Linked DNA regions of Homo sapiens. The protein of the gene in region 3 purifies or fractionates together with the protein of the main gene of each other region. This does not show direct contact. Each region holds a gene or a part of one and is shown on either strand. Other genes may lie near its edges.

Evidence for each region.
Region 1: the proteins of P2RX4 (region 3) and EIF2B1 purify together in Homo sapiens (affinity purification with mass spectrometry; 3 studies listed by BioGRID and IntAct, with this or other methods). This does not show direct contact.
Region 2: the proteins of P2RX4 (region 3) and COQ8B purify together in Homo sapiens (affinity purification with mass spectrometry; 3 studies listed by BioGRID and IntAct, with this or other methods). This does not show direct contact.
Region 4: the proteins of P2RX4 (region 3) and FAM20B purify together in Homo sapiens (affinity purification with mass spectrometry; 4 studies listed by BioGRID and IntAct, with this or other methods). This does not show direct contact.

Annotation. Positions count from the first base shown.
Region 1 is NC_000012.12:123,623,641-123,627,200, reverse strand, and holds part of EIF2B1 (translation initiation factor eIF2B subunit alpha), read left to right. Parts: intron 1-44; coding exon 45-157; intron 158-707; coding exon 708-776; intron 777-2,338; coding exon 2,339-2,414; intron 2,415-3,560.
Region 2 is NC_000019.10:40,692,841-40,696,400, forward strand, and holds part of COQ8B (atypical kinase COQ8B, mitochondrial), read right to left. Parts: intron 3,215-3,560; coding exon 3,149-3,214; intron 198-3,148; coding exon 111-197; intron 1-110.
Region 3 is NC_000012.12:121,223,596-121,227,155, reverse strand, and holds part of P2RX4 (P2X purinoceptor 4), read right to left. Parts: intron 1-3,560. UniProt on the Homo sapiens protein: ATP-gated nonselective transmembrane cation channel permeable to potassium, sodium and calcium. CTP, but not GTP or UTP, functions as a weak affinity agonist for P2RX4.
Region 4 is NC_000001.11:179,032,380-179,035,939, reverse strand, and holds part of FAM20B (glycosaminoglycan xylosylkinase), read right to left. Parts: intron 703-3,560; exon of another isoform or gene 262-702; intron 1-261. UniProt on the Homo sapiens protein: Responsible for the 2-O-phosphorylation of xylose in the glycosaminoglycan-protein linkage region of proteoglycans thereby regulating the amount of mature GAG chains.

The DNA of each region.
Region 1 (3,560 bases), 2.4 Mb from region 3:
CAGCAAGGAGCCTGCCCCTTTGACAAAGCTTTCTCGGTCCACAGACAATATTGACTCACGCCTACTCCAGAGTGGTCCTGAGAGTCCTGGAAGCAGCCGTGGCGGCCAAGAAGCGATTTAGTGTATACGTCACAGAGTCACAGCCTGATTTGTCAGGGCAAGTACCTTTCTGTTCAGTTATGTGCCCAGCCATAATTTTACAGAGCAAACTGCGGATTACAGTCCAACAGGATCAGAACCAGAATGTGCCCCCAGCTTGCCAGCAGTCAGCACTGCCTTTCATTGTACCTTTTCCTGCCTTTGGAAGAAAAATCACTGAATTTGCAGCAGGCCGCAGTATATGATCTAGGGGTTTCACTTAAGTAGTTAACTCCGTGGAAGAGCAGAGATTGTATTGATGAAGATTTTTATCAAGGAATAGGTAACTTATATCTCCCTCTCTCTAGACGATAATCAAAGCAAAACTTCCTCCTTTTTTCCTGAATTTACATCTCTTACCCAGAGTCTAAGAGTATAGTTTTCCAAAAATACTTCTTTCTAAAGAACTCAAATTCTTGTTTCCTTAGTCCAAAGTATTGGGATCTGCCCCTTAACCCATTAGTATTAATGTGAGTTTCAAGCAAACATCCACTGTCCACATTAGGTGACATACATCACTGTGGTACTGTCTTGTACTTTCTCTAACGTTCTCAAAATGTCATCTTCAGTAAGAAAATGGCCAAAGCCCTCTGCCACCTCAACGTCCCTGTCACTGTGGTGCTAGATGCTGCTGTCGGGTGAGTGCCCATCTTCCCCAGCCATAATCACCTCCCCCACCCCATGCTGGCTTACAGCAAGTTTTCAGATTGAAAGTTTGAGTCCCGTTCATAAAGCCACACCAGGTAGCGTCCTACTTCTTAATTAATAGCTGCCCTAAACCAGCAAGCTTGTTATGAGGTTGTGATAGCATACAAAGAAGACAGAGCTGTAGGATGTTGGGGAGAGTGGGAGTTGTGTCTATAGCTTTATGGCTGTAAGTGTTGAGTTTGTTGTTGTTGTTGTTTTTGTTTGTTTGTTTTTTGTTTTTTTGAGATGGAGTCTTGCCCTGTTGCCCAGGCTGGAGTGCAATGGCATGATCTTGGTTCACTGCAATCTCCACCTCCCAGGTTCAAGCGATTCTCCTGCCTCAGCCTCCTAAGTAGCTGGGATTACCGGCGCATGCCACCATGCCACGTTAATTCTTTTATATTTTTAGTAGAGATGGGGTTTCACCATGTTGGCCAGGCTGGTCTCGAACTCCTGAACTCAGGTGATCTGCCCGCCTTGGCCTCCCAAAGTGCTGGGATTACAGGCGTGAGCCACCACGCCCAGCCAGTGCAAATGCATTTTAAGAGCAAAGTACAAAGGTCAGTTGGGATCAGCAGAGGGTAATCAGGGCTCTGTATTTCTGTGAAGACCTGGCTGTCCTCAGTGGCATACTGGGATGCTTTGTCTCACCTAGAAGATGCAGCTTGTGTCGCAAAGCCAAGTCACATGTTCCTGGGATTGTCAGTGTATTTCCCAAGAAAAAACAAGAGTAGTGATCTCTTGGAATGAAAACAAGATAGATGATTAAGGAAATTAGGAATGTGTTCAAAAGTAAGGATTTTGAGGAATTCTACTAATTGCTCATTTTAAAGACTAAATTGGCCTTCATCCTACCAGAAAGATTCTTAAGGTTGGGCACAGTGGCTCATACCTGAGGCAGGTGGATCGCTAGAGTTCAGGAGTTGGAGACCAGCCTGGGCAATATGGCGAAACCCCATCTCTAGGGCATGGTGGCATATGCTGTGGTCCCAGCTACCTGGGAGGCTGAAATGGGAGGATCGCTTGAGCCTAAGAGGTAGAGGTTTGGGCTGAGATCATGCCACTGCACTCTAGCCTGGGCAACAGAGTGAGATCTGGTCTCAAAAAAAAAAAGAAAGATTTTTAAAACTGCATAACACTTTTGTCCAACTTCAGATCTCATCAGATTTTAAAATTTTGTTTGGTTTGTGCTGAAGTAGAAAAGAAAGTAGAGGATACCACACTTGGAAGGAAGACTGCTGTGTCAGGACATTCTTGCTTCACTTACACACATATGTACGTGTGCATGCGCCGGGCGGCAGTGTGAAGTGTATGTCTCATTGTAGGGTCATGACCAGAAAACACCCCTGGTAACAATGCCAGGGGTCTATCGCGTGTTAAGTGCGCTTTAAAAAAAACAGGTAGTTATGGGAGGAACTTACCTTGATAGAAATGGAATATTGATCTTTGCAGATGATGATGCTACTCGTTAGAGCCAAGAAAATAAAGCATGAAAAGCTTTTTTTCCCCTTAGCTACATCATGGAGAAAGCAGATCTTGTCATAGTTGGTGCTGAAGGAGTTGTTGAAAACGGAGGAATTATTAACAAGGTAAGAGCATCAGTTCTCCCCAGTTCCCTGCTCAAGACTTGGAGGTGTCTTGCTGACCTAGGACACCACAGCAGTGTTGATTATGGTTCCTTCTAATCCTGCTTCACTTCAGGACTTCATCATGGTATTGAGTTGTTGCCCATTTCCCGTAAGTCATAGCAATGGGCAGTCCAGTTTCAGTCAAATCTTTTTTAGATTGATCTACATAAATGAAGACAATGTAATTTGGTCAGGTGTGATGCCTTATACCTGTAATCCTAGCAATTTGAGAGGCCAGGGTGGGAGGATCACTTGAGGCCTTGAGTTCAAGACCAGCCTGGGCAACATAGTGAAACCCTGTCTCTACAAAAAATTAGAAAAATTAGCTGGGCGTGGTGGTGCTTGCCTGTAGTTCCAGCTGCCCAGGAAGCTGAGGCAGGAGTATCACGTGAGCCCAGGAATTTGAGGTTGCAGTAAGTTATGATCACACTACTGCATTCCAGCCTGGGCGATGGTGAGACCCTGTCTCAGTAAAAAAAAAAAAAAAAAAAGTGTAATTTATATTTATACAAAATTGGCTTGAATTGGAATTGGGGTTTGTCTGGTTTTTGCTTTATTTATGTGTATATGTATGTTTTATTTATGCATATATATACACACACATAATATATATACACAAATATTTTTAAAATATTATTTATATATTTACATATAAAGTATGTATGTATAAAATACGTGTATTTATATATAAATATTATATATATTTTAAAATAGAGACACATTCACTCTGTTGCCCAGGCTGTAGTGTAGTACAGTGATCATAGCTTACTGCAGTCTTGAACTCCTAGCCTGAAGCAATCTTTCCACTTCCCAAAGTGCTAGGATTACAGGCATGAGCCACTGTGGCCGGCCTGTCATTTGTTTTCATTTTAATTGAGCACATTTGACCTCAATTTATTACAATCTCTCTCTCCATTATTTAATTTAGAAAAGCTTCATGAAAGCTTTTTTTAGTTAAAATATATGTAACATAAGGCCGGGCGTAGTAGCTCACGCCTATAATCCCAGCACTTTGGGAGGCTGAGGCAGGTAGATCATCTGAGGTCAGGAGTTCGAGACCAGCCTGGCCAACATGGTGAAACCCCATATCTACTAAAAATACAAAAA
Region 2 (3,560 bases), on a different chromosome or scaffold from region 3:
GGGTATCGACATGCCCCATCACCTACTCGAGTTCCTCAGTGGAGATAAGCAGCCCCCCACTGCACCCCACCAACAGACACCAGCCCCTTTCTCCCCCAGTGTCTCCCCACCTTGGTTTCAAAGCCTGTGAGGAATTTGAGGTCCCTGGACTTCTGCAGGACACAGTCTCTGTCTCCATCAGCTGCAGCCTTCACCACCTGGGGAGACGGGTGGGAGTTAGAGGGACAAAGGCCGGGGCTCAAGGGGGCTCTGGAGAAGAGGAGCTGGAAGCCTGGGCCTCCCATGTACCCACCTCCATTCTCATCTGCCTGGGCCCTCCCTCACCTGGAAGCTTCCTGCTCCCAACTTTGCCTGTCTGTGACTCCCTTAAAGACTCTTCCAGAGCCTGGGAGTGGAGGTGGTTAGGGATCCTGCCCACCTAGAGGGCAATGTGGGGCCTGCCCGGGAACTGCCACAGTGAAACAGTGCAAGAAACAAGTGTCAGGGCTGCTGGTGAGTCCAAACACTCAACTGGACGGGTATGAGCGTGACCCAGAACTGCATCCAAAGTTGCCAGGGGCCATCTCTCTGTCTCCCACACTGGACTTTGAGCCCCGTGAGAGCAAGGATCCCAGTTGGGTTTAGTCGCACGGGGCACAGGGTCTGGTGCTGAGGAGGCCCTGGGTGAACCTTGCTTTAGCAAATGAGCGTGTGGAGCAGAGCAGCTCTCCAGCCATGAGCTCACACACACAGGGCAGGAGTTGTGGGCATGGAGAGATGCCCAGCTGGGGCCAGCTGGCTAGGGTTCCGTCCCAGCTCTGCCACCTGCCGGCCTGTTGGGCCTCCACTTTCTCATCTGTGAAGTGGGGATGCCAAAAGTGCCTTCCTCATGGGGCTGTTGGGAGGATAAAGAAGGTGATGCCTGTGGCCTGCCTGGCGCTGTGTCTCATGCAGGAAGCACCGTAAATACTATAATCTACCATTATTAAGAGGTGGGCACGGGGGTCCCTATTTCACAGAAGGGGAAGCAGACCCGGAGTAGGGAGTGGAACCGGGTCACACCACTCACTACTGGGTTGCCCTTTTTTGTGAGGAGGGGGATTCGGGATTAATTCCATTCCCTCTCTGCTCCCCCTGCCCGAGCATGTCTGGCCATCTGTCAGGCCTGTGGTCCTCAGAAGCCAGGGCTTTTATAAAGTGGCAAAGGCTGCAGGCCTGGGTGGGAGGGGAGGGTGTCAGTGGGGAGAAGAAGGGTCTCAGCTTTGTGCCTCAGTGGCCGGCAGAGAGGGCCCCAAGGGGCCTGTGTGTAAGGGGTTATCACCTCCTCTTCCTGTTCCTGTCTCAGAGGTGGCCCCACCAGTCCCCAGACCAGACCCCTAGACACCTCTGTCCCCAACTTCTAGCCCGTCTGCTCCCATGGACTGCCAGCTGGGCATCTCCCAGCCACCCCTCTGCCCCTCTCCACAGCTGCCCTGAGCTCCCACCCCCAGGCTTAGAGACCACTTCTTATTCAGAGGGAGTTTTCAAATTCTGACTGCATCCCTTCCCTGCTCAAATCTTTTCCACGGCTCCGCAGGGCACCTGGATACAGTACGAGCTGTAGAGCGCAGCCTCTAAAATCCGCAGTGATTTGCTGCAGCCTCGTCACTGTGCTGCCCCCCGACCTGCCCTCCCACTCAGAATGGGAGCTTCCTTTGGGTGCTCTAGGGCCTTACTACTACCAGTGTGGTCCCCATACGGGTAGCCCTGGCCTCACATGGGTGCGTGTCAGAACATAGCATCTTACACCCACCTCCAGACCAGAATCTGCACTTGCACAGGATCACCAGGCTTCACATGCACATCCAAGTCTGAGAAATGCTGCTCTAATGGGACTGTCCCTTATCACTGCCTCGTCTTGGCACATGTTGTCTATCTGAAATACCCTCCGAGCCTTTTCCCAGTTGGCCCCCCTCATCCCTCAGGTCTCAATGCTGACACTCCCTCCTCCGGGAAGCCCTCCTTGGCTCCCCAGGCTGGCTCAGGCTCCTCCTCTGGGCTCACAGTGCCCTGCGCTTCCCCCATCCCAGCCCTGTCCATGCTAGGTCCTCACTGTCGCCTCACTGACTATGAGTTCTGTGAGGAGGGGCCTAGGCTGGGCCCAGGTCACTGCTGTGTCTCCAGCTTTGCCTAGAATAGAGCTGGGCACAGAGGAGGGGTCAGAAAACATTTAGATTGGCTGGGCAGGAGGGCTCATGCCTGTAATCCCAGCACTTTGGGAGGCCAAGGCAGGAGGATCACCTGAGGTCAGCAGTTCGAGACCAGCCTGGGCAACATGGTGAAACCCCATCTCTACTAAAAATACAAAAATTAGCCGGGCGTGGTGGCACATGCCTGTAATCCCAGCTACTCGAGAAGCTGAGGCAGGAGAATCGCTTGAACCCAGGAGGTGGAGGTTGTGGTGAGCCAAGATCGAGCCACTGCACTCCAGCCTGGGCGACAGAGCAAGACTCTGTCTCAATTAAAAAAAAAAAAAAGAAAAGAAAAAAAAGGAAAAGAAAACGTTTAGATTGATGGCTACATGATTAGAGGACCCAGGGCAAATGTCCAATCTCAACAACGAATGAAATGGTATTCTCTGCAGCCTCTAAGACAAACTGACCCCAGTGGGTGGGAGAGACGAGCCAAGTACGTGAGGAAACACCTCCTGTAGACAGAGTTGCCCCCAGGGACACACACCTGGGCTGGACACCAGGGCCCTGGACAGCATGGGGTCTGGAGAGGTGACAAGATGGTCACTGTGGGCCTTTCTCTTAGGAGGGAGCTGGGCAGTGGTTGGAAGCTTGGGCTCTGGACCTGGACCACCTGAATTTGAATCCCAAGTCTGCTGTGATCTTGGGCACGTGACTTAACCCCTCCAGGACCCAGTTACTTCATCTGGCCTAAAACGGGCCTAAAAACGGTCCTTTTCGCATTGTGTTGCTGTGTGGTTTATATCGGTTCCTATACGTAAGCACTAAAGATGGAGCCTGACATATTAAGTGCTTGGTGTGTGCTAGTTGCTACGAGTATTACTATTATTTATTATTTCTTAATTCCAGAAACTGCATTTCGCCTTCTTACTCCTCTGCCTCAGTATATGGCTTGAGCCTCAGCCTTTCAGAGGCCCTGGGGTCTGGGGGAGACTCACCTCGATGTAATGGTCTGTGAACTCTGTCCCAAACTCCCGGCTTGCACCAAAGTCCAGCAGGGTCACCTGGAAGCAAGGAATGGTGAAAGGAATGCTGGGATCCCATTCACACCCTCACTGTCTATTGGGGCAGCCAGGATCTGTCTCCCTCCCCATGACCCTGCCTGCTCCTGCCAGAGTCCCTGCCTGGCTGCCTCACTGGGCTCCTGGCCTCATCTCCCGTTTCCAACCGACCCCCTAGCTGAAGGCTTTTTTTTCTTTTAGTTCTAATTGTTTATGCAATAACAAATTTTAGACCCAGAAAAAAAATCCAGAGAATAATAAAAGATATAGAAAAGTAAAATGAATACTCACAAATCCTGCCACCCAGCCTAAAATATAAAATACTCCCCATCCGGCCACACGTGGTGGC
Region 3 (3,560 bases):
GAGAAAGGCTGGGACCAAGGGGCTTCTCTCAGGTTTTTTTTTTTTTTGAGATGGAGTCTTGCTCCTGTTGCTCAGGCTGGAGTGCAATGCCGCGATCTCGGCTCACTGCAACCTCTGGGTTCAAGTGATTCTCCTGCCTCAGCCTCCCGAGTAGCTGGGGTTACAGGCGTGCACCACCACGCCTGGCTAATTTTTTCATATTTTTAGTAGAGATGGGGTTTCACCATGTTGGTCAGGCTGGTCTCAAACTCCTGACCTCAGATGATCCACCCACCTCGGTCTCCCAAAGTGCTGGGATTACAGGCATGGGCCACTGTGCCTGGACTTCTCTCAGGTCTTCAAAGTCCCCACTCCCTCAAGAGGGATGGCTTACAACAGGGGTGTTCAAGTTTTTGTCATTTCCTGTACCGTAACACCCACACACACACCTGTGTACCTCACATGTAATACTTTAAGATCAACTCACCTTTTTAGAGAAATTGAGATGAAATTCACATAACATAAAATTAACCATTTTAAACTGGACAATTCTGTGGCATTTAGTACATTCATAATGTTGTGCAATCATCACCTCTGTCTAGTTCCAAAACGTTTTAGTCTTTGTTCTGTTTTTGAGACAGGGTCTTATTCTGTCACCCGGGCTGGAGCGCAGTGGCATGATCTTGGCTCACTGCAACTTCTATCTCCCGGGTTCAAGCAATTCTCGTGCCTCAGCCTCCTGAGTAGTGGGATTACAGGTGCGCACCACCACGCCTGGCTAATTTTTATATTTTTAGTAGAGAGGGGGTTTCACCATGTTGGCCAGGCTGGTTTTGAACTCCTGGCCTCAAGTGATCCACCCGTCTCTGCCTCCCAAAGTGCTGGGATTATAGGCATGAGCCACTGTGCCTGGCCAATGTTATTTCTTATATCAGTGTGCACTTAAAAATCATTTTACACCGCATTAGATCTGCAACAGTGATGTCCAATAAAAGTATATTGTGAGGCCAGGTGTGGTGGCTCACGCTGTAATCCCAGCACTTTGGGAGGCTAAGGCAGGTGGGTTGCTTGAGCCCAGGAGTTCAAGACCAGCCTGGGCAACATGGTGAGACCCTGTCTCTACAAAAAATAAGTTGGCTGGGCATGGTGGTGCGCCCCTGTGGTCCCAGCTACACAGGAGGATGAGGCGGGAAGATCACTTGAGTCCAGGAGTTCGAAGCTGCAGTGAGCCATGATCGTTATCACTGCACTGGGTGACAGAGCAAGATCCTGTGTCAAAAAAAAAGTATCTTATGAGACACAACTACAAGCCACACTCCAACTTAAAGTTTCCTAATAGCCACACTACAAAGTAAAAGAAACAAGTAAAATTTTATACAGTAACCCAAAATATTACTTCAACATGTAACCAACATACAAAAATCAATGAGATATTATACATTCTTTTTTTCATAATAAATATTCAGGGCCGGGCGTGGTGACTCACGCGTGCAATCCCAGCACTTTGGGAGGCCAAGGCAGGTGGATCACGAGGTCAGGAGATCGAGACCATCCTGGCTAACACAGTGAAACCCCCTCTCTACTAAAAATACAAAAAAATTAGCTGGGTGTGGTGGTGGGCGCCTGTAGTCCCAGCTACTGGGGAGGCTGAGGCAGGAGAATGGCGTGAGCGCAGGAGGCGGAGCTTGCAGTGAACAGAGATGGCGCCACTGCACTCCAGCCTGGGCGACAGAGCGAGACTCCATCTCAAATAAATAAATAAATACAAATAAATAAAAAATAAATAAATAATAAACAGAATCGGGCTGGGTGCAGTGGCTCACACCTATAATCCCAGCACTTTGGGAGGCTGAGGCAGGTGGATAACCTGAGGTCAGGAGTTCGAGACCAGCCTGGCCAACATGGTGAAACCTGCATCTCTACTAAAAATACAAAAATTAGCAAGGTGTGGTGGGGGGTGCCTATAATCCCAGCTACTCAGGAGGCTGAGGCAGGAGAATCACTTGAACCCGGGAGGCAGAGGTTGTGGTGAGCCAAGATCACGCCACTGTACTCCAGCCTGGGCGACAGAGCGAGACTTCGTCTCAAAAAAAAAAAAAAAAAATCCAATTTGATGATAAGTGCACTTCCTATGGACAGCCCATCTCCTTTCGGACCCAGCCATATTTCAATTTTCAATAGCCACGCGTGGCCAGAGTCTCCTGTGTTGGAGAGCACAGCTCTGTGAGATCCTCTCCAGCTCTAAGATGCTAGGATTCCTTTTCTTTTTCTATCTCCTTCCTTTGCCTTAGCAATCTCTAAATCTGCAGTTCTCAGCCTTTCCTTCTGTCTCAACACACCCAGGATGAGGTTCAGTGGCTTCCTGCTCCCCGGGGCTCATGGAGACCTCGGTCTGAGCTCTCGGTGAGAAAGGCCCTAGGCTGCACGCACTTCTCAGAGCGCTGCCCGGACTCCACCCCATGAAGCACAGCCAATTACAACCACGAAGAATGTTATTCTAGAGCAACCTTGAACCTGGCTAGTTTAGTTGATTTTTAAATTTTTATTTATTTATTTTTTTAAATTTTTATTTTTTGAGACAGAGTCTCTCTCTGTCGCCCAAGCTAGAGTGCAGAAGAGCGATCTCAGCTCACTGCAACCTCCACTTCCCGGGTTCAAGCAATTCTCCTACCTCAGCCTCCCAAGTAGCTGGGATTACAGACAAGCGCCACCCTAACCCTAATTTTTGTATTTTTAGTGGAGACGGGGTTTCTCCATGTTGGCCAGGCTGGTCTTGAACTCCTGGCCTCAGATGATCCGACTGCCTCAGCCTCCCAAAGTGTTAGGATTACAGCATGAGCCACCGCGCCAGGATGAACCTGTCTAGTTTAGTTTAAAATACACTGTAGCAAACATCCGTTGTTTTCTTCCCAGCATCTGCTCCCAGCTTTTCTGGTAACAGAACCCCAAATGTCCTTTGGAAGCCATATCTCCCCAATGCTTGCCTATGTCACTTGGGTGGGTCTGACTCTAGCCCCAGCTGCAGAGGTGGGCATGTGACCCAGGCCCAAGCTGATAAGCAAAACCCATTCCCCAGCCACAGAGATGGGTTGAGAGATATGGCCATTGATACGATGATGGACAGGTCTAGAATCTCCAGGGACAGCTGGAAAGGGAGACTCAGACTTGGGGGGCTGTAAGTGCAGCGCTGCCTCCCGGGCTATGCTGTGGGTCCTGCGAGTGAAGCTGGCACGGCGGGATGCAGAGCCAGGAAGGGAGACTAGGGTGTTGTCCTTTGTCTCTCACTCTGTCGCCCAGGCAGGAGTGCAGTGGCCTCTGTCGCCCAGGAGGGAGTGCAGTGGCACCATCTCAGCTCAGCAACCTCCTCCTCCCAGGTTCAAGAGATTCTTCTGCCTCAGCCTGGCACGAGATTCTCCTGGCCACGCTGGATCTTTTTGGTCAGCCGGACAATACACTGCCCCCCCGCTGTGCACGCATGTGTATGTGTGTATGTGTTTGTGCACATGTGCTTAAGGCACTGAGAACTGTTTCCTGTCAGTTATTTGCAACTGACAGAGTCCTAACATACAAGGAAGTCAGTC
Region 4 (3,560 bases), on a different chromosome or scaffold from region 3:
CAGGCTGGTCTCGAACTCCTGACCTCAAGTGATCTGCCCACCTCAGCCCCCCAATGTGCTGTGATTACAGGTGTGAGCCACCACGCCCAGCCGGCTAATTCACTTTCATTCTACACACACACACACACAAACACACTCATCCTACTCATTTGATAAATATTGTATAAGGGCAAACGTAAGACTATGAAGTTGTTTTGGGAGAAGAGATATAGATTCCACAGAAAAAAAGTGAGGTCTTAATGTAAAGTCTTCTTTCAAGAATCTCCTCTCCGGTCCATGCCTCCAAGATGACAAAGAAAAGAAGGAACAAAAGTCATGTCAAAAAGGGCCACAGTTACGTGCAGCCATTCGCTGCATGAACTGTGCCTGATGCGTGCCTAAGGACAAGGCCATTAAGAAATTCATCATTCGAAATATAGTGGAGGCCACAGCAGTCAGGGACATTTCTGAAGCAGCGTCTTCAATGCCTATGTGCTTCCCAAGCTGTTTGTGAAGCTACATTACTGTGTGAATTGTGCAATTCACAGCAAAGTAGTCAGGAATCAATCTCATGAAGCCCACGAGGACCGAACACCCCTACCCCGATTTAGACCTGTGGGTGCTGCCCCACGACCCCCACCAAAGCCCGTGTAAGGAGCTGAGTCCTTAAAGACTGAAGACAGACCATTCTCTGGAGAAAAATACAATGGAAATTGTACTTAAAAAAAAATCTGGCTGATGGTGGAGGAACATTTACAGAAAAGCATGTTGGTGTGGGGGTCTACAGATCATGTGATAAATCTCAATGTATGTGGCTGCCAAGGAACATGAGAACACCTGGCCTTAACGCTTACTACCTTACTAGAGGGTCCTACAAGCCACCAATGAGATTCCAAGCCTTATTAGAAGTGTCCCCTTGAATCACCCTCTGATTAAGTGACAAGCTCACAATACTACCTCTGAGGTCATAGAGAAGAAATAAATACCAACCTCTGCTCATAGCAACTAAAAGTGAAAGTTATGGTAAAAGTAAACATAAGTTTCACTTCTTGTGTTTCTAATTTAATGGTCAAATCAGGTTCTTATGACTTAAGTAGAATGTAACATGCCTTGTAAATGCAAAGCACCACAAAGGAAATGCTTAGTAAGAATGCTTCATGCAGAGGACTAACAACAAAAGAGATCTGAGGCAAAGGGGTAGGATTTCTTAACTGGTATAGAATTATATTTATGCACACAATCTCTTTGCCCTTGATCCTGAGTAGGAACTACAAGGATCCTTTAACAAAATACTTTGGTAATTATTGGTTTGACTAAAACTCTGAAGGTTTGGTGAGTATAGGAGGTAAGACTTGAATTTGAATTTTTTGTAGACTGTCTGCAAAGACAGACACTAACAATTTATCCTATCAAGAGGTGGAGTCAGGGCCAAACATGCTGGTTTACACCTGTAATCCTAACACTTTGGGAGGCTGAGGCAGAAGGACTGCCTGAGCCCAGGAATTCGAGACCAGCCTGGGTAACACAGTGAGACCCTGTCTCCATTATTAAAAAAAAAGAGAGAGAGAGAGAGAGAAAGAGGTGGAGTCTGTTTTTCCTCCCCTTGAATCTGGGCTGGCTTTGTAACTTGTTTTGACAATAGAATGTTGTGGAAATGACTGTGTGCCAGTTCTGGGCCCTGGTCTTAAGAGACCTGGCAGCTTCCACTTTCACGGGATCTAGCTACCATGTAAAGAAGCTCAAGCTAAGACTACCAAATGCCAAGTGATCTATATGGAGAGAGGTCCAGCCAACCCTTGGCTATCCTGGTCACCCCAGGTGAAGTGCCAGACATGAAGATGACACTTTCAAGGACATTCCAGTCCCAGTTGTGGTCTGGCAGAATGTAGTCACTGTTGTGACCCCAGCCTATACCATTTGAGCAGGAACACGTGAGACCAGATGACCTATATAATTATAAGAAATAACAGGCTGGGCGCAGTGGCTCACACCTGTAATCCCAGCACTTTGGGAGGTGAGATGGGCGGATCACCCAAGGTAGGGAGTTTGAGACCAGCCTGGCCAACATGGTGAAACCCCATCTCTACTAAAATACAAAAAATTAGCTGGGCATGGTGGCACATGCCTGTAGTCCCAGCTACTTGAGAGGCTGAGGCAGGAGAATCGCTTGAACCCAGGAGGCGGAGGTTGCAGTGAGCCGACATCACGCCACTACACTCCAGCCTGGTGACAGAGCAAGACTGTCTCAAAAGAAAAAAAGAAAAAGAAAAAGAAAGAAAGAAATAACAAATCATTGTCTTAACCCACTATTATTTTGAGGTAGTTTGTAAAACCCAACATTCTCACATCTGTTCTGCTCCTATCAACTCCTTTTGGGGATAGTAAAAATACCAGGGGAGAAGACATAGGGAAATAAATTACGTGACTAAAAACAATTATCTCAGGGAGGGAGTAATCACTAAATTAACCATTAAGTGCAAATAAAAATTGGTTTGATAAATTGTTAGGTCATATTTGTAAATTATTATTAATGGCTTCTAGGAGCAATACACTCATTATAAAAGTTACATGTCATTTATATTTTTCTGTTTTCATTGTATATATTTAGAAAGATACATAATTAACAAAGTCTCTTAAAGGTACCACAAGAAGAAATAGATTCTCAACTGGATCATTTACTAAAATCCACTTGCATACTTCAGAGCCCTACTTAGACTTATGCAGAGCAATCAAGGCTAACCTCACACATTCACACACTGACACATGTCCGGTTTATAAAGCCTAACTTTTGTACTTCAGCCAAAACATAAATAGCAAAAATCACATCTTTTAGTGCAAAAAAAGTTAGACACACACACGCTTTTACCGTGGGCTGTCTGGTATACTGCCCTTTTGATTTTTCACTAGCAGTGACAGTAGGGCACTGTGCATATTATTATTAACTGTTATGAGTTTACACCCCGTTCCCTAGAAATAAATGTCTCTACTGATGGTTAGTGGCAGTGATAAGTAAAATTAAGAGCATTCAGAAGTCTTTTAGTATTGTGTGACAGTCAAGATGTCCAGAAAGTCAAAACCTCCAATATTAAACAGCATTACATGTTTATTATCTCAGTAAATGCTGAGTACCCTGGGAAAACCAGCCCACTCCTGCTTTGCTGCCTGCCACAACAGCATGCTATTCTTCCTTTCATCTTCACATGAGGGTCTTCAACTAAAAATAAAAACTAATACTAAGTAATAGCATTAATCAGTATCTATAGATATTTTTTCTTCTTTTCTGTGCTAATTATCCACTTAAGAAATAGCTTCTTAATTCACCTTCTTATTTTAAATATAAGCTTTCTGTAGCAGAGGGGTTAAAAGCATGTCCTCTGGATTCAGAATGCCTAGGCCTGGATGCTTCCTTTACCACCTAATGTGGGTCTTGGGAAAGATATTTAACTTCTGACCTCTCTGGGTCTCAGTTTCTGCATATAAAAAAATGAAACAAGAATACTATTACCTAACTCACAGGGTTGTTAAAAATGAATGAGCCAGCTACTCGGGAGGCTGAGGCTGCAGTGAATCAAGATCATGCC